Homo sapiens: one gene and its partners. The protein of the gene in region 7 interacts with the protein of the main gene of each other region in a pairwise test. Each region holds a gene or a part of one and is shown on either strand. Other genes may lie near its edges. The genes, in order: BAHD1, VCX2, ATXN7L2, ZNF438, PADI6, RBM10 and ZNF526.

The links.
Region 1: the proteins of ZNF526 (region 7) and BAHD1 interact in binary tests that used the Homo sapiens proteins (3 or more experiments, as listed by UniProt).
Region 2: the proteins of ZNF526 (region 7) and VCX2 interact in a two-hybrid assay, tested with the Homo sapiens proteins (one large-scale study listed by BioGRID).
Region 3: the proteins of ZNF526 (region 7) and ATXN7L2 interact in a two-hybrid assay, tested with the Homo sapiens proteins (one large-scale study listed by BioGRID).
Region 4: the proteins of ZNF526 (region 7) and ZNF438 interact in binary tests that used the Homo sapiens proteins (3 or more experiments, as listed by UniProt).
Region 5: the proteins of ZNF526 (region 7) and PADI6 interact in binary tests that used the Homo sapiens proteins (3 or more experiments, as listed by UniProt).
Region 6: the proteins of ZNF526 (region 7) and RBM10 interact in binary tests that used the Homo sapiens proteins (3 or more experiments, as listed by UniProt).

What each region holds. Positions count from the first base shown.
Region 1 is NC_000015.10:40,461,453-40,464,952, forward strand, and holds part of BAHD1 (bromo adjacent homology domain-containing 1 protein), read left to right. Parts: intron 1-459; coding exon 460-842; intron 843-2,408; coding exon 2,409-2,568; intron 2,569-3,018; coding exon 3,019-3,095; intron 3,096-3,500.
Region 2 is NC_000023.11:8,169,444-8,172,592, forward strand, and holds VCX2 (variable charge X-linked protein 2), read right to left. Parts: upstream 1,825-3,149; 5' UTR 1,664-1,824; intron 1,347-1,663; 5' UTR 1,201-1,346; coding exon 1,099-1,200; intron 907-1,098; coding exon 589-906; 3' UTR 501-588; downstream 1-500.
Region 3 is NC_000001.11:109,486,905-109,490,069, reverse strand, and holds part of ATXN7L2 (ataxin-7-like protein 2), read right to left. Parts: intron 3,064-3,165; coding exon 2,853-3,063; intron 2,553-2,852; coding exon 2,266-2,552; intron 1,688-2,265; coding exon 1,605-1,687; intron 1,224-1,604; coding exon 970-1,223; intron 788-969; coding exon of another isoform or gene 730-787; exon of another isoform or gene 141-729; coding exon 1-140.
Region 4 is NC_000010.11:31,021,866-31,025,365, reverse strand, and holds part of ZNF438 (zinc finger protein 438), read left to right. Parts: intron 1-962; exon of another isoform or gene 963-1,946; intron 1,947-3,500. UniProt on the Homo sapiens protein: Isoform 1 acts as a transcriptional repressor.
Region 5 is NC_000001.11:17,385,696-17,389,195, forward strand, and holds part of PADI6 (inactive protein-arginine deiminase type-6), read left to right. Parts: intron 1-2,685; coding exon 2,686-2,864; intron 2,865-3,081; coding exon 3,082-3,185; intron 3,186-3,500. UniProt on the Homo sapiens protein: Structural constituent of cytoplasmic lattices, which plays a key role in early embryonic development. Cytoplasmic lattices consist in fibrous structures found in the cytoplasm of oocytes and preimplantation embryos.
Region 6 is NC_000023.11:47,172,721-47,176,220, reverse strand, and holds part of RBM10 (RNA-binding protein 10), read right to left. Parts: intron 3,094-3,500; coding exon 3,024-3,093; intron 1,203-3,023; coding exon 1,129-1,202; intron 1-1,128. UniProt on the Homo sapiens protein: Binds to ssRNA containing the consensus sequence 5'-AGGUAA-3'. May be involved in post-transcriptional processing, most probably in mRNA splicing. Binds to RNA homopolymers, with a preference for poly(G) and poly(U) and little for poly(A).
Region 7 is NC_000019.10:42,226,007-42,228,701, reverse strand, and holds the end of ZNF526 (zinc finger protein 526), read right to left. Parts: coding exon 2,286-2,695; 3' UTR 501-2,285; downstream 1-500. UniProt on the Homo sapiens protein: May be involved in transcriptional regulation.

The DNA of each region.
Region 1 (3,500 bases), on a different chromosome or scaffold from region 7:
CATGGTGAAACCCTATCTCTACTAAACATACAAAAAAATTAGCTGGGTGTGGTGATGGGCACCTGTAATCCCAGCTACTCAGGAGGCTGAGGCAGGAGAAATGCTTGAACCCGAGAGGCGGAGGTTGCAGTGAGCCAAGATAGCACCACTGCACTCTAGCCTGGGCAACAGAGCGAGACTCTGTCTCAAAAAAAAAAAAAGTTCGGAGTTAAAAAGGATGTTCCAACCACCTCTCTTTCAGACTAAAAGGGGAGATGGCCAATCTCCAAGATCAGGAAACACCCCTGTCCCCTTAGAGAGTCACTCTGACAGTCCACCATAAAAAGGCCTCTGATCCCATCGGCCACCTCAGTGGCCTTTGGTTGCACAGTTAGAATTAAGACAGGAGCAGGCTCTGAAAGCAGATGGGTGATGGGGGTCACTGCTTGTCCTGTCCTGACCACTCTCTCCCTTTCCTAGAAGGCTGCAGATCCCTGGGCCAGTTGGAATTTCCTCTCCCGGAAGCTGGCCACCCAGCCTCACCCGCCCACCCACTCCTGGGGTGCCCTGTACCCAGTGTGCCACCTGCAGCAGAGCCCGTCCCCCATCTTCAGACACCCACCTCGGAGCCCCAGACAGTAGCCCGTGCGTGCCCTCAGAGCGCCAAACCTCCCAGCGGTTCTAAGTCAGGTCTGCGCACAGGCTCCAGCTGCAGGCACACTGCAAGGAGCAAGGCTGCCCGCAGGCCTAGCCACCCCAAGCAGCCACGTGTCCAGCGCCCACGCCCTCGCCGCCGCCGTCGCCGCCGCACTAATGGCTGGGTACCTGTTGGGGCTGCGTGTGAGAAGGCTGTGTATGTCTTGGTAAGTGCTAGCTCTTAGCTGATGACGAGAGGGAGGGAGGCAGTGGGGACACATGACCTGCAGTGAGGTAGGTGCTAGAAGCACCTGGTTCTAGCTACTCTGAGAGCTGACAAGGGACTCCAGTTTACTTGTACCCCAGGAACCAGTCATGCTGGCCCACCCAGCTTGCTTCCCTAGCCCCCTACTGATCCTGTACCAGACACCCCAGGGAGGTCAGGAGACACACAGTCATAGCTGGTGGCTGCCATCTCGGTGAGTGTCTTCCCCTCCCCTCCCTGCTCACTTTGTCCCTTACACCCTGGATTGTAAAGTGGAGGACTTTCAATGGAGAACTTTTCTGGATAAGTCTATATAGGGGGCGTTGGAATGGGCAGAGAAAATTAGTGACACAGAGAACATCTCGGATGATGAAAAGAGGCCAAGTGCGGTGGCTCACATCTGTAATCCCAGTACTTTAGGTGGTGGAAGTGGTAAGATCGCATGAGGCCAGGAGTTCAAGACGAGCCTGAGCAATATAGACCTCATCTCTACAAAGTAAAAACATTAGTTAGCCAGGCATGGTGGTGTGCACCAGGAGGCTGAAGTGGGAGGATTGCTTAGGTCCAGGAGTTCAAGGCTGCAGTGAGCTGATTGCACCACTGCACTCCAGTCTGGGTGACAGAGAGACCCTGGCTTTTAAAATTAATTAATTAAAAACAAAAAGAATATTAACTAAAATTTATTGAGGCTGGGCAAGGTGGCTCATGCATATAATCCCAGAGCTTTCAGAGGCTGATGCTAGAGGATTGTTTGAGCTCAGGAGTTCAAGACCAACCTGGTCGACATAGCAAGATCCTGTCTACAGAAAAAAAATTTTTTTAATTAGCCAGGCATGGTAGCATGCATCTGTAGTCCCAGCTACTTGAGAGTCTGAGGCAGGAGGATCACTTGAGTCCAGGAGGTTGAGGCTGCAGTGAACTATGGTTGCACCACTGCATTCCAGCCTGGGTGACAGAGTGAGACCCTGTCTCTAAAAATAAATAAATACATAAATACATAAAATTTATTGAGCACTTCTTAGATGCCAGAACTGAGCTAAGCATTTTGTAAGTATTATGCCCTTTAATCCTCACCACTACCCTATGTGGTATATATCCCATCTTCCTATAATTAATCCCATTTTACAGATGTGGAAGCTGAGGCTTAGCAATACTTTAAATAATTTGTCAAAGGCTGTGCCCCTTATAACAGTGGTTTAAGGGTTCAGACCGAGACTTGTTCCATTAGGAAGCATGAGCACTTACCCAGCACTGGGGGTCTTGGAGTGAGAGTCAGCTGTCGGGTATGGTGGTCAGAGCTCAGCCCCAGAAGCTTCAGGCCACTTTTCCACCCCTATTCCCTTTTCTCATCCTTTCTCCAACCATGAGAATTCCCCAGCCCCATCCAAAAAAGGATAGTGGTTTGACAAAACCAAGGTAGTGGTTTGACTATCTTGAGGAAATCGTGGAAAGGATGTCATTCCCTCTCTCTGTCCTTACTCTGAGTGTGGCTCTGCAAGCCTATTTGTGTCATTGGTTTGTTGCCTAGGATGAGCCGGAGCCAGCCATCCGAAAGAGCTACCAGGCGGTAGAGCGGCATGGGGAGACAATCCGAGTCCGGGACACCGTCCTTCTCAAATCAGGCCCACGAAAGACCTCCACACCTTATGTGGCCAAGATCTCTGCCCTCTGGGAGAACCCCGAGTCAGGTACCTCTCCCTCTGGCTGGGGACCCAAGGGGCAGCTGCCTTCAGCAGAACTGTAGTCCCCAGATTGGCCCCTGCCTGGAGTTTGACCTGGCGTGAGTCTCCCCGTGTTCCTGGCACAGAGTCTGCCTTCCACTCGGCTGGGGTCTCTCTGCTGCCGAGGGCTGTGGGTGACCTTGTGGCTTGGGTTGGATCAGCTCATTAACCTTTCCAGCCAGCAGAGCCTGGGCACCTGTCCCCCCACCTCACCTGTCAGTGCCTTCTCCCCCTTCTCCCTCCATGCCTAACAGCATTCCAGGCCTCTGAATGCTTGGCCTGGGGCAGGGGACATGGGTTGCCGGAGCCTGCAGGATTGAGGTTGGATGAACCTCCAGGGCAGCCAGCCAGCCTCTCTGCCTGTCTAAGTAACTCAGGTTGCCAGTTCAAGCCATAACCACTGTGTTGTCCTTCCAGGAGAGCTGATGATGAGCCTCCTGTGGTATTACAGACCTGAGCACTTACAGGGAGGCCGCAGTCCCAGCATGCACGAGGTGAGCTGCCTGGCAGATGGGTCAGGGAGGGCAGGAGAGACAGAGGGAAAGGTTATGGCACTAAGACGTGGTAGGGGGAGGGCAGCCATGGGCTGTAGTCAAATCCCTGCGCTTGTCACTTTGGACTCCAGAGAACCTGGGAAAGGGCCCAGGATTTATTCTCTTTTCCCAACACTGCCCCAATTCATGTTTCAAAGGGAATAATAACCTTTGTCTTAAAAAGAGGAACAGAAAGGGAACCCTTGAGGTAGCAGGTGCCAATGGGAGCAAGTGGATGTGTTCCCCTGGAAACAGGAAAGGTGAGGTGGAGCTGCATACCTGGTCACTTTTGGTATTTTCTGTAGTAGGGGAGGGGAGGGGAGGAAAGACTCCTCCTAACACCCCATAGGCTCTCCACCAAGCTGT
Region 2 (3,149 bases), on a different chromosome or scaffold from region 7:
CTCCCTCCCCACACACCACCTCTTCCTCCCTCCCTCCCCACACACCACCTCTTCCTCCCTCCCTCCCTCCCCACACACCACCTCTTCCTCCCTCCCTCCCTCCCCACACACCACCTCTTCCTCCCTCCCTCCCTCCCCACACACCACCTCTTCCTCCCTCCCTCCCCACACACCACCTCTTCCTCCCTCCCTCCCTCCCCACACACCACCTCTTCCTCCCTCCCTCCCCACACACCACCTCTTCCTCCCTCCCTCCCTCCCCACACACCACCTCTTCCTCCCTCCCTCCCTCCCTCCCCACACACCACCTCTTCCTCCCTCCCTCCCTCCCCACACACCACCTCTTCCTCCCTCCCTCCCTCCCCACACACCACCTCTTCCTCCCTCCCTCCCTCCCTCCCCACACACCACCTCTTCCTCCCTCCCTCCCTCACCACACACCACCTCTTCCCCCCTCCCTCCCTCCCTCCCCACCATCAGAGAACACGGAGTCACTCAGATCAATTTGCAACACATTCATTTTATTATCTTCAGAATGGCAAGCACCCCGCTGGTGAGATCTCTGAGGTCTGGCGGCTGGGCCTGAACTTAGTCGGTGCTCTCGGAGACAGGGGAAAAGCTGGCCATCCACACAGTCAGTGGTTCTTCCACCTCGCTCTCCTGACTCAGTGGTTCTTCCACCTCGCTCTCCTGACTCAGGGGGTCGTGCTGGGTCCCCTCGCTCACTGGCTCCTCCGGCGGCAGCTCGTGCTGAGGGAGCTCCTGGCTGGGCTGGTCGCTGGGGCCGGGTGCCGCTGGCGCGCTCTCCGCCTCAGGTGCCGTCACGGCCGCCATCTTTGTCGCAGCCCCTTTCTTCCCGCGTCTCCCTCTACGAACTGCTTTTCCCTTCTTGGCCACCTTGGTAGTCTGGAAGGACAACAGGGAGATCACAGAAGGGCTCTGGTTTAGGGACGAGGATGGAGGAGGCTGGGAACAGGGACGTGTCCTCAGAAGCGGTGGGGGCCGGGTTGGGGGGTTCTGCCAAGTGACGACAGGAGAGGCTTCTTGTGAGGAAGGAGGCGAGGGGAAGACGAGGAGGAGCTTGGGAGGGTCACTCACCTTCTTCTTCGGGTCACTGGGGCTCGGCTGAGAGGAGGACTTCCTCTTTCCTGCCTCCGTGGCCTTGGCCGGAGGTCCCGAGGCTCTCGGCTTTGGACTCATCTTCCGCAGCTCAACGTCTCGCAACGGTCGACTAACTCCAGGCTGCCTGGCCTCCCTGTATATACCCCTCTCGCGATCCCAGGACGAGACAATCACGCCCCTGAGCTGTGATTGGTCAACACTCCACTACCCAGCCAATGGTAGCCCTGGGCGGGAAGGAAGGCCTTATACGTCACAAAGCACCATCAGGACATGGCGGATGAAGTCGGGGGCGGGGGGGGGGGGTGACATCTAATGAGGAAGGCAGGGTGCTCTAATTGGAGAAAGGGAGATTTGGGTTAGCACCCCTAAAGATAGTTCCCAAACTGACATGTCACCCCTCCTAAACTCCCCATGTTCAATTTTGGCAGATCACGTGGCACGGGAGGATATTTCCGCCACATGTTTCCCCCGGACCTCCCATTCAGTGGTACATTCTGTTCCTCCACACCTGCCATCATTACCCAGTTTCTGTATGACCTATCTAAAATCCCTCCATGCTAACTGGGATGGATGGAGGGCTATACGAAGACGTCAATCATCCCTCTCTCCTACAAATTCCTCTGCTACACCTTGAGGATCATTCACTTCTTGGATGCCATGAAACAACTTTTCCATCTCACATACTTCTCCCAGCATCCACATAGTGCCTCACAATTTTTCATTCTCATGGTTTAAAGCACTGGCTTCCAGAGGTCAAGATCAGCAAACACACTCGCTCAGCTGGGTATCGGTATCAGGCTGGGTTTCGGTATCAGGCTGGGTTCCTCAGAGAAGGAGAAACTAAACCAACAGGATATTGTGTGTGTGTGTGTGTGTGTGTAATATTATATATCATAAATATATATTTACTATCATGTAGTATTTATGAATTATATATATGATACAGTTTATTCTAAGTAATTGGCTCACACATTGACTCAATGTGGGGGTCTAGGAAGCTGAAATATATAGGGCAAGTGAGCAGGCTGGAAACTAAAAGCTTCTGCACAGCCAACAGTCAACAAAATGAAAAGGCAGGCTATGGTTTGGGAGAAGCTATTTGCGAACCATGTATCTAATAATGAGTTAATATCCAAAATATATAAAGAACTCACACAGCTCAATAGCAAATAAATAAATAGTCTGGTTAACAAATAGGCAAAGGACTTGAATAGGCATTTCTAGAAGGAAAACACACAACTGGCCAACAGGTATATGAAAATGTGCTCAACATCGTTAATAATCAGAGAATGCAAATGAAAACCACAATGAACTATCACCTCACTGTTACACGCTGTTGACAGACGTGTAATTGGTACAGCCGTTATAAAAAACAGTGTAATGGTTCCTTGGAAAATCAAAATAGATCTACCATGTGACCCAGCAGTTCATCTGTTAAGTATGTACCACCCCCCAAAAATGAAGTCCACATCTCATATAGATATCTCCAGTACTAACTAATTGTAACTCATTAATTACACAGGAAATTAGAGTTTCTATTTGAAAAGAATGTTTTTTTCACCATTCTGGTATCAAATATTTATTCTAGTCATCTCTTCTTATTTCTTGCTTTGTAATAACCTAGGTACTCACTACCCATTGACAGAACCAACTTATTATTCCAACAAGAAATGAGAAATACTGAGGAGAATGCAATGTGATACTTCTGTCTTCAACCAGTTATTCCAGTTTTATGGAGGATTCTGTATTTAACTCTTACTCAGGTAACTCTAGTTACCAAATCCATAGTACCTAGTCAACAATCCTAAAAAAGTAAGAATACAGAATTGACTCGAATGGTTACTAAACTTTCTATGTTCAACCAGTTTTCCTAGTAATTGCTAGTTGTTTGTTCAACTAGTACTGAGAAGAATTTGTTTATTCCAGGTACTGGCTTCATGTAGTTATCTCTAGTTAATTACTCACTTGGATAAAGTAGATATCTACTATATTAGGTAATATTTCTAACATGAGGTTGGAATTTTGCA
Region 3 (3,165 bases), on a different chromosome or scaffold from region 7:
CAGATGTCCCCTCCTCCTCACTCTCTTCGCTGGAGGCCTGGGTCCCACCCCGGGGCATGGGGAAGGGGAACAGGCCTGGGTCCCCATCACCACCACAGGGGCCTTCATCATCCAATTCACTCTCGGAGGAGGCCCGGGACCTGGAAGGGCCAAAAGGGATGCCAGGGGAATGTGACTGTTGTGGGGTCAGAGTAGGGGCATCCTTGAACCTGCCGAGCTCAAAGAGCAGGGCACCAGGGCAGACACCCTGCAGGGCAATCAGAAGAGGACAGAGGGAAGGGAAGGACAGGAGGGAACGACACAGCTCACAGAGTAAGAGACAGAGAGACTGCTCCCAAGGGATTCTCTCCCCAGCCCCTTCACCTCCCAGCCCCTTCCTCCTCAGGGGATAATCTGCTGCAGATCCGCCTCCTCCAGAAAATCTTCACAGTTAAAACTGTACCCAGCTCTGGTCAGCCCAGTCAACTCGCTCAACCCCCTTCTTGCATCACATATTCCTGTGAGCCTGTCTGTGAGCTGAGCCTGTGTTTCGTGTCTGCCCCTTGTGTGACAGGCAGAGATGCATGTGTGTCTCCTTCAGCAAGTCAGGCTCTCCCTGGGGTCCGGCATAGCCTCTGCACGCGAAGGGGCCAGTGAGTGAATACACATAGGGCTGCCTTGCCCAGGAGTGTGACCCTTTCAGCTCCCCAGTGACAAGTTTCGGTCTGTTGGAGGCAGCTGGGAAAATGTTCATATCCTGAGTGTTGGATCTGGCACACTGCCGAGAGGCTGGGGTGCTGTGGTATGCCTGGTTGGAAACAGGGGAGTCTCCTGCTTCCACACCACTGTCAGGAGCCCCAGGAATACCCCCACACTCAGGGCTGAGGGAGTGCCTCTTCCAGGACACTCCCTGAGCCTGTTTCCAGGGGCCCCTGATGGCTTAGGGGCCAAGTACCCCCAGGTGAGGTAGGGGTTGGATTCTAGACGTACCTGGGCAGTGCACAGTATGGGTAGGTCTGCTTGGCACGAACAGAGAAGGTGCTGCTGGGAGCAGCCACCGCTGCTACAACCTGGACTGAGGAGGGGAGCTCCTGGGAGGGGCGCTCGAGAACTTGCTCCTTGCGCCCTGGGCTCTTCTCCTTGGGAGACTCCCCTTTGCGGGAGTTGGCCTTCAGCTCTGCCACCAGCACGTCAAAGTCCTTGGCCCGGCCCTGGACTTCCCGGCGCTGGTGTACTGAGTGGATCTAGAATACAGCAGAGTGGAGAGCTGGGGAGTAGGTATGAACTGAGAAGGGGTGAGGGACGGCAGGGTGCTTTGGCCCGGGCAAGTTGGGGGGCAGGGAGAGAGGTGGGCATATTTGCAGCTGTGTTCATGTGTCTTTGTTTCATTCCCCCATGGGGCCAAAACCCTCCTTTGGGATGGGGGAATCTGGAAACTCCCTCCTTCCCACTGTTCCCACCTTCTGCCCAGGAGGGGCATACCCATCTCCCCTTCCCTTGGGTGGGCCTAACTGCCCTCCCTTAAGCTGGACCTTCAGTAACATCGACATTCCTCTCTTTGCCCAGGGAAGGAGTGGGCAAGCCCTGTGCTGTCCTCCCTCACCGTGCAGTGGGAAGGGGGTTACCTTGCAGGTCAACAGGCGGGTACAGATCTTTTTGGTCTCTGGATTTATTACCCCACACTGCCTGTTGAGGTCGCACTCCTTCCCTGTGGGGAAAGCACTTCCAATGAACCTCAAGACCATTTCCAGGAGTTTACAGGAGGATTTGGCCGCTTCCTGCCAAGGGCCTGAGAACTGGTACTAAGGCAGAAGAGACTCCAGCCCTCAGCCTGGGGCTGTACCTTCCAGATAAACTTCTGGGCATCAACATCTCCTTGCTGGGTGTGAGAACCATCCCTATCCCAATTTCAGGTGCGCCTTTTGGGACTTCAAGCCCAAAGCAGGGCAACACACATCAAGAAACAAAAGCAGCCATGGGCATCTGGGAGGCCAGAGAAGCCAGCTGTGAGATGTGTCTGGCTGGCGCCCTGGATCTAGGTGAGAAAAGAGTGAGAAAGAACTTCACCTCCTGGGCATGGGCTCCCTCAGCCTTGATCAGGAGACACAGGATGGAGAGAAGCTTCCCAGGAAGCAAGCAGGTCAAGAGGTGACGGGGCTCCTATACCCTACAACCTGTGATGGCCAGGCCCATAAACCTGACCTCCTCCTCATCCAGCCCAAGGACAAAGCAGCCCAAAGGAGTCCCCACTCTACATTCTGGACCCCCAAGACCACAACTACTCACGAGCCATCTTCCGGTGGGTTTTAGGGGGCAGCCTGGTCCCACTGGGCTCCTTTTCAGGAGGGCTGCCTTCAGCCCAGTGACTGGACCCCTCACTGGGGATGATCTCGATGTTCTCTCTGCCAGGAGGTTCTTTAGAAGGGGGAGCCATGGGAGGTTTTCCAGGGGAGTCCTTGGTGAGGCCCCCTGGCTGGCTGAGAAAAGCAGAGGGTGGGGCCACCCTGATTCCATGTCCATCAGGCTTCGGGAGACTGGACATCTTCTCCAGATTCACCACAGGCACGAAAAGGCTACACACAGAGAGAGGGGGTTGGCTGAGGGAGGGGAGGGGAGGCGAGGCCTGGGGCCTGGACTCTAGCCCAGAGCCATCTCTTTCCCAGCCCTGGAATTTGGGTGGGCTCCAGCAGGGGTGTGAAACACGGGAAGAGGAGACCCCATCTTCCCTGGAATATATGGAAGGAAGCTGCAGACAGGACGGCTGCCTCCTGCTGTGAGGAGTATGCCTTGACCCAGGGCTGTCTGTATTGATGTCAGCCCATCCATGGGTCAGGGTCAGGGCCAGTCTTAGAAAGTTTCCAGCCTCTCCTTACCAGAGGTTGTCCTTCTGGGTCTTCTCAGGAGGCTGGTGGCCACGGCTCCGGGACCCCTGGCCCTTCTCCCTGGAGGAGGTTTTCGTGGAACCTGGGGCCCTACAAGCTGGGCCCTGCCCATTCACTACATGGCATTTCTGAGAGCTGGCAGGGGCTGGAGGTGGGGGTGGGGCCCGGCCATAAAGCTTGCTGAGGGGCCCATGTCTTCTTTCTGTCACCAGGAGGTGGAAAGAATAATCAAGGTGAGTGGTATCACCACTTCCTTCCCCAACCTAACCATGTCCATAGACTCACATGAGAGAATCTGAGTTTC
Region 4 (3,500 bases), on a different chromosome or scaffold from region 7:
GGGGACATTACTCCTAGCATCTAGTGGATTGAGGCCATTATAGCATGTCACTGAATGTCCCACAATGTACAAGACAACTTCTCAACAACAGAAAATTATCCAGTTCAAAATGTCAGTACTCCTGATGTTGAGAAATTCTGTAATATCTTTTCTTCCTTCACTCCCTCCTTCCTTCTGTTCCTCCTTTTTTATTTTTTTATTTTTTTGCTTTAGAAATGGAGGTGGTAGTTTTAAGTGGCAAATGCCTGACTTGGACAAAGGATTGTGTTGTACTGCTTTTAGTTTGTTGGATAGCTGAGCTAATTTGGTTCATTTACTGAATGGGAAATAATTCTTGGAGCTAATAATAGTAGCCTTGAATTTTTTTGGTTGCTAGTGTGTCTAGTGGTTTTGTATTTGTTTTTGGCTATGAATATTTTTCTTACTAAAATTAATTTAATCTGGACTTTATATAATCCTGGATTGTAACAGGTTTCCTAGTGTGAATTCCCTTTATTGTTGTATATGTTAAATTAGCTATTTCACAGTTTCATGGTTTATATCTGTCAAAATCCTTTTCACATTAATTTTCATTTTTGATTGTTACAAACAGCCCATAAAATGTGTAGGGCATGCATTATCCTCACTATTAGACCAATGAAGAAACAGACTTAGGTTAAATGACTTTCCATATGTGTTAATAAGTTAGTGATGAAAGCAAATCTAGAACTTTATACCTAGGAATCTTTTTTTTTTTTTGAGACAGAGTCTCGCTCTGTCGCTCAGGCTGGAGCGCAGTGGCGCGATCTTGGCTCACTGCAAGCTCCGCCTCCCGGGTTCACGCCATTCTCTTGCCTCAGCCTCCCTAGTAGCTAGGACTGCAGGCACCCGCCACCAAGCCCGGCTAATTTTTTGTATTTTTTTAGTAGAGGCGGGTTTTCACCGTGTTAGCCAGGATGGTCTCGATCTCCTGACCTCGTGATCCGCCCGCCTTCACCTCCCGAAGTGCTAGGATTACAGGCGTAAGCCACTGCGCTCGGCCGTACCTAGGAATCTTTTAAAGTTACCAGTTATTGTTATCCCATTTAATCTTCTTGACAATACTGTGAAATAGAGTTATTACTCTCATTTTATAGAAAAAGAAGTTGGTTTAGAGATATTAAATAACCTATTCAGTGCCACCCAACTCATAATGTAGTTTGGCTGTTTCCACTGAGCTATTCTGTGTCTTCAGATATTCTCCAATAAATAAATCTGACAATTTCTGGATAAATTCACAGAATCTTTGCCTAACTTAATTAGGTTTCTTGAAACTCATGTTGCCACTTGAATCATTGGTAATTCAGTGTTTGTAAGCCTATTCTAATTTGACTTAAGTAGAAACTTACCTGAGTTTTGGTAAACCATACTTGCTGGGTAGGGGAGAACCGTGCTTGCAGAAGACAGTCCTTTAAACAGGCAGAGACGTTTTTATGTAGGGTTTTGAGGAAGCACAGAGTTTGAGATTGGCTGATTTTGAAAAGTGCAAAAATTTAAGGATTAGCCAGCTTTAAACTTAGAGTTTAGAGACTGACCGGCTTTGAGGAGCAAAGGTACTGAAGCGGGGCAGTTGCTGATTGGCTTACTTTGTTGGCAAAGTGCTTAAGTGGAAAGGTTGAGTAGACTTTAAGGATGGATTGACTGGGGTAGATTTAAAACTGGTTTTGTGGTTACTTGTTTCCAGCTTAGGACTAGAGCCAAAGAACAATCTTTTCCTTTCTTGAAGTTGAAGAATACGTACTTTTTATGTCAAACATGTTGATGTTAGCTATGGCGCTAATATAACATACTTTTGATTTTGCTTTTCTTCTGAAACTTAAAAGAAAAATGGATGTACAAATATCACTTGTTTTCTGTCTATCAATTTCAGGACAATATATTTGGAACCCAGGCTGCCTCAAGGATTATTTTTATATGTAGTTCAAGAGGTAATATATTATTTGTGGAAATATATTAATGCTTTAAAAATTATGGTGAAGGCTGTGCTGTCTATGGTGAAGGTTATGTCTATTTTTTTTCTCTTTTGGGAGTGTGTTATATTATGTGCCTGCCACAATTAGTCTTGATAGATGCCGAATTATAGATCTAGAAGTCTGTTGTTTTTGCTGTTATTAGAGATACATCTAGAAGTGATTACTTTTTGAATGTTACTTGGAAAGTATTCTGATCAACATTATGAAAGATTAGTGATTATATTACATATATTTTATAGAACAAGGCAAGCAAAATATTTTAGTATTTGCAAATCATGTTACTATAATTATTAGATCATAGTACCATTTATATAAAGTATTAGGTTGGTGCAAAAGTAATTGCGGTTTTGGACCGTGAATTTTAAATCATTATAAGTCGGCTCAGACACGTCTTTATTAATCAGAGCAGGAAGCATTATAATCAACACATTTTTGCCAATGAGAAATAAGTTTGTTCATTCCTGTAGCTTAAAAATTCATGCTTTGGGATTTGGAAAGCATTTTCTGCTTTCCAAAAACCTGCTGGTTTTGGAAGCATTTTCCTTTCAAATAGTTGTCGAGATGCTTGAAGAAGTGGTGGTTGACAAGAGGTCAGGTGAATATGGCGGATGAGGCAAACTTCATAGCTCAATGCATTCAGCTTTCGAAGCGTTTGTTGTGTGTCGTGCGGTTGGGCATTGTCATGAAGAAGAATTGGGCCCTTTCTGTTGACCAACGCTGGCTGCAGGTGTTGCAGTTTTCAGTGCATCTCATTGATTTGCTGAGTGTACTTCTCAGATGTAATGGTTTCACCAGGATTCAGAAAGCTGTAGTGGGCCAGGTGTGGTGGCTCACGCCTGTAATCCCAGCACTTTGGGAGGCCGAGGTGGGTGGATCACCTGAGGTCAGGAGTTCGAGACCAGCCTGGCCAACATTGCGAAACCCTGTCTCTACTAAAAATACAAAATTGGCCAGGCATGGTGGTGTGCACCTGTAGTTCCAGCTACTTGAGAGGCTGAGGCAGGAGAATTGCTTGAACCTCGGAGGCAGAGGTTGCAGTGAGTTGAGATTGTACCACTGCATTCCAGCCTGGGTGACAGAGTGAGACTCCGTCTCAAAAAAAAGAAAAAAAAAAGGAAGAAAGCTGTAGTGGATCAGAGCGGCAGCAGGCCACCAAACAGTGACTATGACCTTTTTTTGGTGCAAGTTTGGTTTTGGGAAGTGCTTTGGAGCTTCTGGGTCCAGCCACTGAGCTGGTCGTTGCCAGTTGTCGTATAAAATCCACTTTTTGTCACACGTCACAATCCGATTGAGAAATGGTTCATTATTGTTGTGTAGTATAAGATGGCACTTCAAAATGACAATTTTAAAAAATTTTCCTTCAGGTCCTGAGGCACCCATTTATTGAGCTTTTTCAACTTTCCAATTTGCTTCAAATGCCAAACGACCGTAGAATGGTCAATGTTGAGTTCTTTGGCAGCTTCTCACTTAGCTGTAAGACGATCAACTTCAATGATTGCTCTCAATTGG
Region 5 (3,500 bases), on a different chromosome or scaffold from region 7:
TATGCTAGAACAATCCACGAAGGATGGAGAGGATGACATCGTCGTCCCCAAAAGAAAGGGGTAGCTGGCATTATCTGATGGCCAGCACTTCACAGGAACTGGGATTCTTGAGGAATAGAGAAATGGCCGAGAAGTGCCAGTGAAGAACCAAGAAGGGTACCCACCTTCCTGTAAGTCCAGCAGTACATGGCAGGTAGGAAAAAGCTCAGCTCAAATCATCAGTATTTGCTCTGTGCCCTGAGGATCCAGCTCTGGAAGAATAAACCATGTTACCTGCTCTCAGAGCCTGCTACGACAGATGGACAGACAGTCGAGGACCCAGCAGAGGCTGGAGGGAGCCCTTTAATATGCCCCCAGGGTGGGTAGGGAGAGTTTGAGGTAGCTAAGGCCTCCTGGGCAGCTCTGTGAGGACTGAGGGCAGGGAGGGCCTTCCAGGTAGAGGCAGCTATTGTGTGTACTTGGGTCGCAGGGCTTCTGGCCTCCCCCATGCTTCTGTTTAATGGGGACAACAAATGCCTGCTTCAAAGGGTCCTGAGGATGTGAGCCCATGAGCCTGAAACACCTACCACAGCTCCTAGCAAAGATAGCCCACAGTGAAATGTTAGCTATGCTTCACAACAAACTATCTGTGAGAGGGGCCCCCAGAAGGTCAACCACAGGAGAGCCAGCCAGTAGGGGATTGTGGCAAACAGACTGTGACCCTCTCGCCCTCACTGCCTGGTGGTGAATCACCCTTGGGTGGAATGGCCACAGGGAGCCCAGGTCCCCAGAACAGGAGCAGGCCCTAGGTGTGTGGCACCTCTTGGGCTGCATGCCGTGGGCCTGCTGATGCTATCGCAGGTCAAGAGGGCTGTGTCTGCACTGGGAAGTTGCAGGGGTTCCTGGGGGAAGACTGCCTTGTCTGGTCTTGCCCCATGAGGCCTGGCTCAGGGCTGGTGAAGCATCTAGGTAGATGAGAAGCAGGAACTAGCACAGGAGTGGTCCCGGTGGGCCCAGTTCCCTCACAGCCAGCAGCAGGACTGAGGCTGGGCCTGTAACCAGCATCCCCAGGGCCTCCAAGGAGGGGCTGCTGCAGAACTGCAGAGTCCATCGGGAGGGCTGCTGGGGCTCTAACCCAGAGCAAGAGGCCGAGGACCCAGGGCAGTGCCTAACCAGGGGCAGCCACGGCCGCAGCTGCAGCCATCTGCTGGCACGTTGGAGGAGCTGGAGATGGAGGCAGCTGGCAGTGCCGTGCAGAAGGTCTGAGGATGCTACAGTTCCTGGATCTCTTGGGGTTCTAGTGGCCAAGGTAAATCTAGCTTAGGATCCCCTGAAATAAGTCACCTGGAATCTTGAGCAGGAACAGCCATCAGGCCTACAGCTGCCACATCGGGCACAGATAGAGGACAGGCCAGGAAAGAGGAAGTTCGAGTGACCCAGGTGGGAGAAGTCAGGGTCATTTCTGACCTAGAAAATGAATGGACTTGGGCTGGGCACAGTGGCTCACGACTGTAATCCTAGCACTTTGGGAGGCTGAGGCAGATGGATTGCCTGAGCTCAGGAGTTGGAGACTGGCCTGGGCAATGTGGTAAAACCCCATCTCTACTAAAAATACAAAAAACTAGCCGGGCATGGTGGTGCACACCTATAGTCCTAGCTACTCAGGAAGCTGAGGTACAAGAATTGCTTGAACCCAGGAGATGGAGGTTGAAGTGAGCCGAGATAGTGCCGCTACACTCTAGCCTGCTCAACAGAGCAGGACTCCACCTCAAAAAAGAAAAGGAGGGGGGGGGGCCAGGCGTGGTAGCTCACACCTGTAATCCCAGCACTTTGGGAGGTCCGAGGTAGGCAGATCACGAGGTCAGGAGATCAAGACCATCCTGTCTAACGAGACGGTGAAATCCCGTCTCTACTAAAAATACAAAAAATTAGCCAGGCGTGTGGTGGTAGGTGCCTGCAGTTCCAGCTACTCAGGAAGCTGAGGCAGAATGGCCAGAATCCAGGAGGCAAAGCTTACAGTGAGCTGAGATCACGCCACTACACTCCAGCCTGGGCGACAGAGCAAGACTCCCTCTCAAAAACACCTTTAGGATCTAATTAGCAAACGGACAACCACCACGTGTGGTCAACTTCCTTCTGATCTCTTCTGTGCATGGTTTTGTATTTAATGACCTAAAACTAGGAGACAGGCTTAACATGTATAATCATAAGAACACTTGGTTTCTTCAGAAAACTTGATGGAGGCATAATCCATCCAATAAATGGTTCTCACTGACCTTTCTAGCATCAGTAAGTGATTTTTTTCAGATGAGGCTGCTGAGCCCAGCCTGGGACAGTTTCTCACCTTTAGGACTCTGATATTATCGCAGGAGTTGGATTCATGGGCCAAAATGTAGAACCACCTACCCTGAGGCTTCACACCAGTCAGGAGCCTTGAAGGCATCATCACCTGAGCTCCAACTCCTGGCATGTAATAGGTCTTCAAGGAATACTGGTGAATAACTGGCCATTGCTTGTGTATGAACATCTGGTTGTCTACCAAGACCTGAATGCTAGAAACGGGGATGGCTGAGCCATTTCAGCTCCAGCCCTCCTGGAACTCACAGCCTTGCATCTGATATGAGGAATGAGCTGGTACCTTGACCATCAAATGTGACCGGCACCAGGTTACTTCAGTGGCTGGTCCATCCCTTCTTTCTCTCCTAGAAGACAACTCCAGTACCTTTGAGTTGGTGCTGGGGCCCGACCAGCACGCCTATACCTTGGCCCTCCTCGGGAACCACTTGAAGGAGACTTTCTACGTTGAAGCTATAGCATTCCCATCTGCCGAATTCTCAGGCCTCATCTCCTACTCTGTGTCCCTGGTGGAGGAGTCTCAAGACCCGGTATGTCCCCATAATAGATGGGTCCTCAGACTAGGATGCTCCGGTGGGGGAAAAGCCATCTCCCACAGTTGGGCAGAGCTTGAGGTTTGCTGGGGGAGAGCTGCAGAAGGCAAGTGGGGCCCAGCTGGGGGCCGGACTGAACGGCCGGAACCCTGGGGTAAGAGGGGAGCGAGTAAATGTGGAAGCAGGTTGCTAACAGGACCTTGTCTTGTTGCAGTCAATTCCAGAGACTGTGCTGTACAAAGACACGGTGGTGTTCCGGGTGGCTCCCTGTGTCTTCATTCCCTGTACCCAGGTGCCTCTGGAGGTTTACCTGTGCAGGTGAGAGACCATCAGGCTGACTGTGCCAGGCGGTTCTCATAACTGGCACCCTCTTCTTTCTATATGCAGGGCAGGGTGGGTGAAGATGACTAGGACCTCTCACCAGGAGAGTTGAAACCCTTCTGTCTGAGCTGTCTGGACCTGCCCCAAGACAGTCCAATACATGCCTGAATATTCCCAAAGATGGGCATGGAACAGTGAATGAGACAGTCCCCCCATTATGTGAGGGCCAAACGGCATGGTTTTAAACAGTACCAAGTGCTCTAAAGCAGGGTGAAGATGGAGAGGTCAGGATGAGAACCTGTCCCAGGGACG
Region 6 (3,500 bases), on a different chromosome or scaffold from region 7:
GTGGGGAGAAACCCCCACTCGGCCCTGACACTGCCAGGCCACACCCAGGGCCAGGACTACACAGGCTACACTTGGGGGGTGAGGGGAGACAGGGAGGGGGAGGGAGAGGGGAGAAAAAGAGAAAGAGAGCGCAGGTGCGCTAGTGCTGGAGAAGGGGAAAAAGAAAGAGCCATTTCGAACAGATGGAAGTTTCTGCCATGAGGCCGTCTTCCCATGGATGGCTGGGTCCTGGGCCCATGGCACTAGCCTACCAACCCCGAGGAGACGGCCCCAGGGCTGCCTCTGCCGGGATCCCCCATTCTACCACCTCTGCCCCTTCCTCCCCTGAAACTGCTCTCCAGTGCCCTACACCAGGGATCTGGGCAGGGGTGGGTGACCAGGCAGATCTTTGGGTCTCGGAGGTCCCAAAGCTGCTGAGTTGGGATCCCGTGCCAGGCTTGGGGGACAGGCTCCCCCCAGGGCTGACTGTGCACAGGTCCTTGCCGAGAAGACAGAGCTGCCTGAGGTGGTGCCTCCTGCGAGTGTGGAGATGTGATAGGAAGGGTAGGGGCGGCGAAGTGAGGCCAGGGTGTCGATAAAACTATCATACTCGACGGGAACTTGAGATCAACAGAGCAGTGCTGTCCCCTTGCATGAAAATCAAAGGGCCAAATTCACATGCAGGGATGGGGCTGACAAAATGAGTCTTGCTAGTGACTGTGCCAATAGCTAAGCTCCTCACTGGCAGGACTTCCAGTGGTCCTGAGGGTGGAATGAGGTCCTGGCTCTGGCTAACCCCAGAGAGGGGTGCCCCCCCCACCAGCCCCGGGGGAGTGGGAAGCTAGGTGAAAGAACCCACCCTGGCAGCTCTTTCTCTGAACGCTCAGCTGGGAGAGGTGAAGGGGCAGCACTAGTGCCTGGTGGTAGGAAGGGGCCAGTGGTGAGTGTGGGCTCTGGATGAGAAGCCCAGTGGGGTAGCGAGAGATGGGAAGAGGAGATAGTGAGGGTCAGGAAGGGGAGAGAGGGGGCGGGGGGATGGGACACAGGGCCACAGGGCAGGGAACTGTGTCCATAAGAATCAGGCGATGGGGAGCGCTCGATTACAAAGTAGTATTTGTTTGGGGGGGGGTTCAAGTGCGGCAAAGCAACCTGATTGGCTTCCATCCATCGTGTAGCGTCCTGCAAGTGACTAAACTCGACGAAGGCGAAGCCCCGGCTCTGACCTGGAGACAGCATTCAGATACAGACGCAGTGGGTTAGTCAACAGCTTTGGACACACGGCGTTCCCGGGGGCGGGACCCGAGGGGAGAGGACGGGGGGCAGAGAGGGAAAGGGGAAGAGGAAAAAGGAAGAAAGAGAAAGAGGCAATCAGAGAGAGAAAGACTAGCGGGCGTGGGGGGCAAGGTAGATGGCCAGGTGGGGCAGGGAAGGTGGAGGGAGAAAAACAGAGGCCAGAGGTCGGTAGGGGGAGAGACACACACACCAACTGGGAAGAGAGAGATGGGGCTCGGGCAGACCTGCCCAGCCAGCCTGGGGTGACAGAGACGGAGAGAAGCAGCTGGGAGGGAAAGAATACGAGAGATCTGCCTCCAAAGAAGGAGGGAGGGGATGGTGGGCAGGCTGCTGGCTCCACACAAGCCACAATACGTAACTCCAGGGCGGGCCCAGCTCAAGGCCAGGGGTGCCCAGGAGGGGTCCTGTAACAGGTGTTGAATCACAGGAGCAAAAGAGAAGCTGGGCCAGGCTGCTCTGCGAGGCTAGGAAGGCTCTTGGCCCATTGGAAACCAGGGGCGGTTAAAGACACGACCTCATCTCAGCCTCACCGCAGCGCAGGGGAGGCGGGCCTCGCTAGGGAGCCACCTCAGGGCCACAGGGTGGAGACTACAGCCACAAACAGTCCAGGTTCCCCTGGACAAAAGGAGAATGGTGGCCAGGATTGGCCAGGAGGACCTTAGAGGTAAGAATCAATGGGTGCCTGGGAGAAGCGCCCAGGGCCATTGAGAAGGCCGCACCTGGAACACCTCCTTGTGGAGAGAGAGACCCAGAAGCTGTCCGTGTGTGGTGTAGTTGGGGTGATGCAGAGCAAGACCTACATGCAACCAAGATTCCAGGCTTGGGAAAGGGATTCAGGGTTGAGGCCTCAGGATAGCATGTCCTTTAGAGGCAGATACATGGGGAGGGCTTGGATGAGAGGGGCTTGGGGGGGCATGCTTAATGTTCAAAAGAATAACCGTTAGGATGCATAGGAGGATGGAATGAATAATATAGTTGGGGGGGGCAGAGAGAGAGAAAGAGAGAGAGGGAGAAAGAGAGAGAGAGAGAGAGAGAGAGAGAGAGAGAGAGAGAGAGAGATGGAGGTGTGGGGAGGAGAGACTGAGAGATGGAGAGAGAAGCCCAGGCAGAGTGAGGCCCCACTGTGCCTGCCTTGGGGAGCCTGGGCAGAGGTCCTGTAGAGACAACTCCCCCCACCACCACCCTGCTAACCTCAGGCCAGCTCCAAGCAGCCTGCAAGAGGGAGGGAGGGAGGGAACAGGCGAGGCCAGGAAGTCCTGGCTGTTCCTTGGGATGTGTCCTTGGATAAGAGCCATCCCCTGCTTCCCCCTTGGGACACACATGTGGGACCACCACGTCAGAGCTACTTTCTGGTCAGAGGCTGTTACCAAAAAATGTGGGGGAAAGTGAGGGGCAGAGGAAGGAGAAGAAAGGAGAGGGAAGGGAGTGTATGGGAGGGGGTTACCATCTCAGATACTCAGAGTCCCAGAGAGGAGGTGCCTGGGAGCCTGGCCCTGGCCCTGACCCCAGGGAGCACCCAGCTCAGCTCAGAGCTGCACCCCTGCCCCGACAGCCCCATTGAAGAGGCTTTTGGCTGGAGCTGTGAGGAGAGTGTGGGGAGTGGGAGAGAAGAGAGGGCACCCCCCACGCTGCCCATTCCCAGCTGTGGCAGGAAGGTGGTGGAGGGAGTGGGGGAGAAGGCAGAGGCAGGAGGGAGATTCGGAGGCTGAGGCTGGCCACTTGAAGGGGAGGGCACTAGAACAAAAGCTCACCTGAAGATTTGTTCCGCATCAGCCGAACCTCCCGTGCTTGCACGCCGTGCGACTGCAGCTGGCCACGGATCTATACGGGGAGATACAGAGTAGGGCAGGCTCAGCACAATGGGGCCGCTGGGTACCTGAGGCTGGCTGGAGGCCTCTGGATCCCGAGGGGTCATCGGTGATGTGCACACAGTCTCCTCCGCCTCTTTCGCAGCTTTTCCCTGAGTGACAACAGCCCCAGGCCCACACCAGTTCACAGTCTTGACTTTCAGCCCCAGACTTGCAGAAAGTGAATCAAATGAAGAAATGGGCACAGAGCAAGGTAAAGCATGGCAGCAGGACGACCCTCAGGGGCACAGAGAACAAGAGAGCAAGTGAGCCAGCCACTTAAGAACGGTGGGCAGGGTGATCTGACAAAGGGCTCGCTGGCAGCCACGAAGTAAGGAAACCTGGGATGCAATTCTTGCCCTTGGCAAGGGGATAACCCGC
Region 7 (2,695 bases):
GTCTCTACTAAAATACAAAAATTAGCTGGGTGCAGTGGTGGGGGCCTGTAATCCCAGCTATTAGGGAGACTGAGGCAGGAGAATCGCTTGAGCCTGGAAGGTGGAGGTTGCAGTGAGCTGAGACTGCACCACTGTGCTCCAGCCTGGGCAACAGAGCAAGACTCCATCTCAATCAATCAATCAATCAATGGAGAGAAAGACTATTATCCTAGGTAACCTCTGAAAAAGGTGGGAATCTTCCTGCTCTCAAGACCTTTGATGTTTCGAAGCCCCTTCAAATCCCAATAGCTCTGACACTGGTTTACTTTTCCTCTAGTTAGAATGAATCTTCCTCTGATCCCCTACCCCTGCACAAGTTTCAGGTCTTAATCACTCAGAATAGTATGGGTTACAAATGTGGGCCGCAGGGGCCTCCCGTACTCAAATCTCACATCTCTGCCTAGCTGTGAAACCTTGGGCAAATCTCTGTCCTTAGTTTTTTTTTCCTTTTTTTTTTTTTTAAGTGACAGGGTCTTGCACTGTTGCCCAGACTGGAGTGCAGTGGTGTGAACACAGCTCACTGCAGCCTCAATCTCCCTCATATCAAGCAATCCTGCCTCCGCCTCAGCCTCCAGAGTAGCTGGGAATACTGGTGTGCACCACCATGCTCGGCCAATCATTTTTATTTTTAATAGAGACAAAGTCTCTCTCTCTTGCCCAGGTCTTGAATTCTTGAGCTCGAGTGATCCTCCTGCCTCAGCCTCCCAAAGCACTCGGATTACAGGCATGTGCCACCAGGCCTGGCTAACTTTTAAGTTTTGTAGAGATGAGGTCTTGCTGTTGCCCAGGCTGGTCTCGAACTCCTGGCCTTAAGTGATCCTCCTGCCTCAGTCTCCCAAAGCACTGGGATTGCAAGCGTGAGCCACCGCACCTGGCCAGTTTATTTTTATTTTTATTTTCTTTTGAGAGGGAGTCTCACTCTGTCGCCCAGGCTGGAGTGCAGTGGCGCGATCTCGGCTCACTGCAAGCTCCGCCTCCCGGGTTCACGCCATTCTCCTGCCTCAGCCTCCTGAGTAGCTGGCCACCACAGGCGCCCGCCACCACTCCTGGCTAATTTTTTGTATTTTTAGTAGAGACGGGGTTTCACCGTGTTAGCCAGGATGGTCTCGATCTCCTGACCTCGTGATCTGCCCGCCTCGGCCTCCCAAAGTGCTGGGATTACAGGCGTGAGCCACCACGCCCAGCCACCAGTTTTAAAAATCTATACAACAGGGATAATATGAAATCTATGTCACAAGCCTGTTGGGATCATAGTACACATACAGTGGTAAGTGTGGTGCTTGCCTCAGGTAGGCAGTCAGATGAATAACTGGATGGTCTCCAAATACACCAAGAGCTCACCCTCTTGCAGTGCTGTCTGCCTGGAATGTTCTTTTCCTCTTTCACTGCCAGATTCCTACTTTTCCTTCAGGGACTACCTTCTCTAGGAAGTCCTTAACTCCTGATCTCCCACCATGGAGGTCTGTTTCCTGGGATCCCACTGTCCCTGCACATCCCCATCACAGCCCAGAGAAGCCTTAGGCCTGACTCATCTCTGCCCCCAGCATCACCCAGTATGGGAGAAGGGAGGCTTTAGGACACACAGGCTGAATGAATCAATGAGACACACTCAGAGAGCAAGCTATCTGTACTTGTGCGTTTCTCCTACCAGATTGTGCATGCCTCCTGTGGGCAGAGCCTGTGCTGACTTGCTCCTGGGTCTCCAGCATCACCCAGTCTGGAGCTGAGGACCTGGGTACCTACAGATTTCCTTCCACACTGTCAGAATTGAGATGAAGGAAGCCCAGAGAAATCAAGTACCCTCCACCAGGCAGAGCAAAGTCCTGGGTGCCCAAAATCCAGGGAAGGCAAGGGCTGGGGGTACAAGCAGAGGATCTGAAGAGGTATATGAGAGTGGCCAGCACAGACCTGGCATAAGCTTGGTGCTCAGTGAAGGTTACCTGATGTTGCTGGGCACCAGGGTGATGCAGTGCAAAGGGCCTTGGCCAACCCACTTTGCAGCATAGCTGGGTGACCTGGTACAGATCACATCGCATTTCAGAGCTTCAGTTTCCCCTCAGGCAGAGAAAGATGACAAGAGAAGCCTGGAAGGGTTGTTCTGGGGAGTCAGTGGGTAAAAAGAGGCCAGGGTGGATCCTGGCACATGGTGGGTACCAGACCAGTTTGTCAGAGGAGGTCCTCTCTCCCCAGAGGTACCCACACTGGCTGTTGCAACCAAACCCTTTTGTTGTTGCTTTTCAGCTGCGTCACACGAAGGCCGTGTCCAACTGCAAGAGCCCGCCTGCTTCACTGGCCCCCAGTGCAGCCTGGCACAGCTGCAGGGTGTCCTCAAGCGCCAGTGGCTGGGATGTCTCAATGATGGCGATGGTCTCCCCCAGCTCTGTGCACATGATAGTCTGTTGAGGCTCTGGAGGTGGGGGTGGGGCAGGAGATGGTGATCTGGGAGGCTGTAGCGTCAAAGTCCGAGCTCGGGCATGGACCCGCTGATGCAGTCGCAAGCCCGCCATGGCGCGGAACCAGCGGCCACAAGTCCCGCAGTAGTAGGGACTCTTGTTGTAGAGACCAGTGATGGGGAGGCGGGGGGCGCGGGCAAAGGCGACTGGCCGCAAGTGCAACCGCCGGTGCTGCTGCAGGTTGGAGCTCTGTGTGAAGCGCT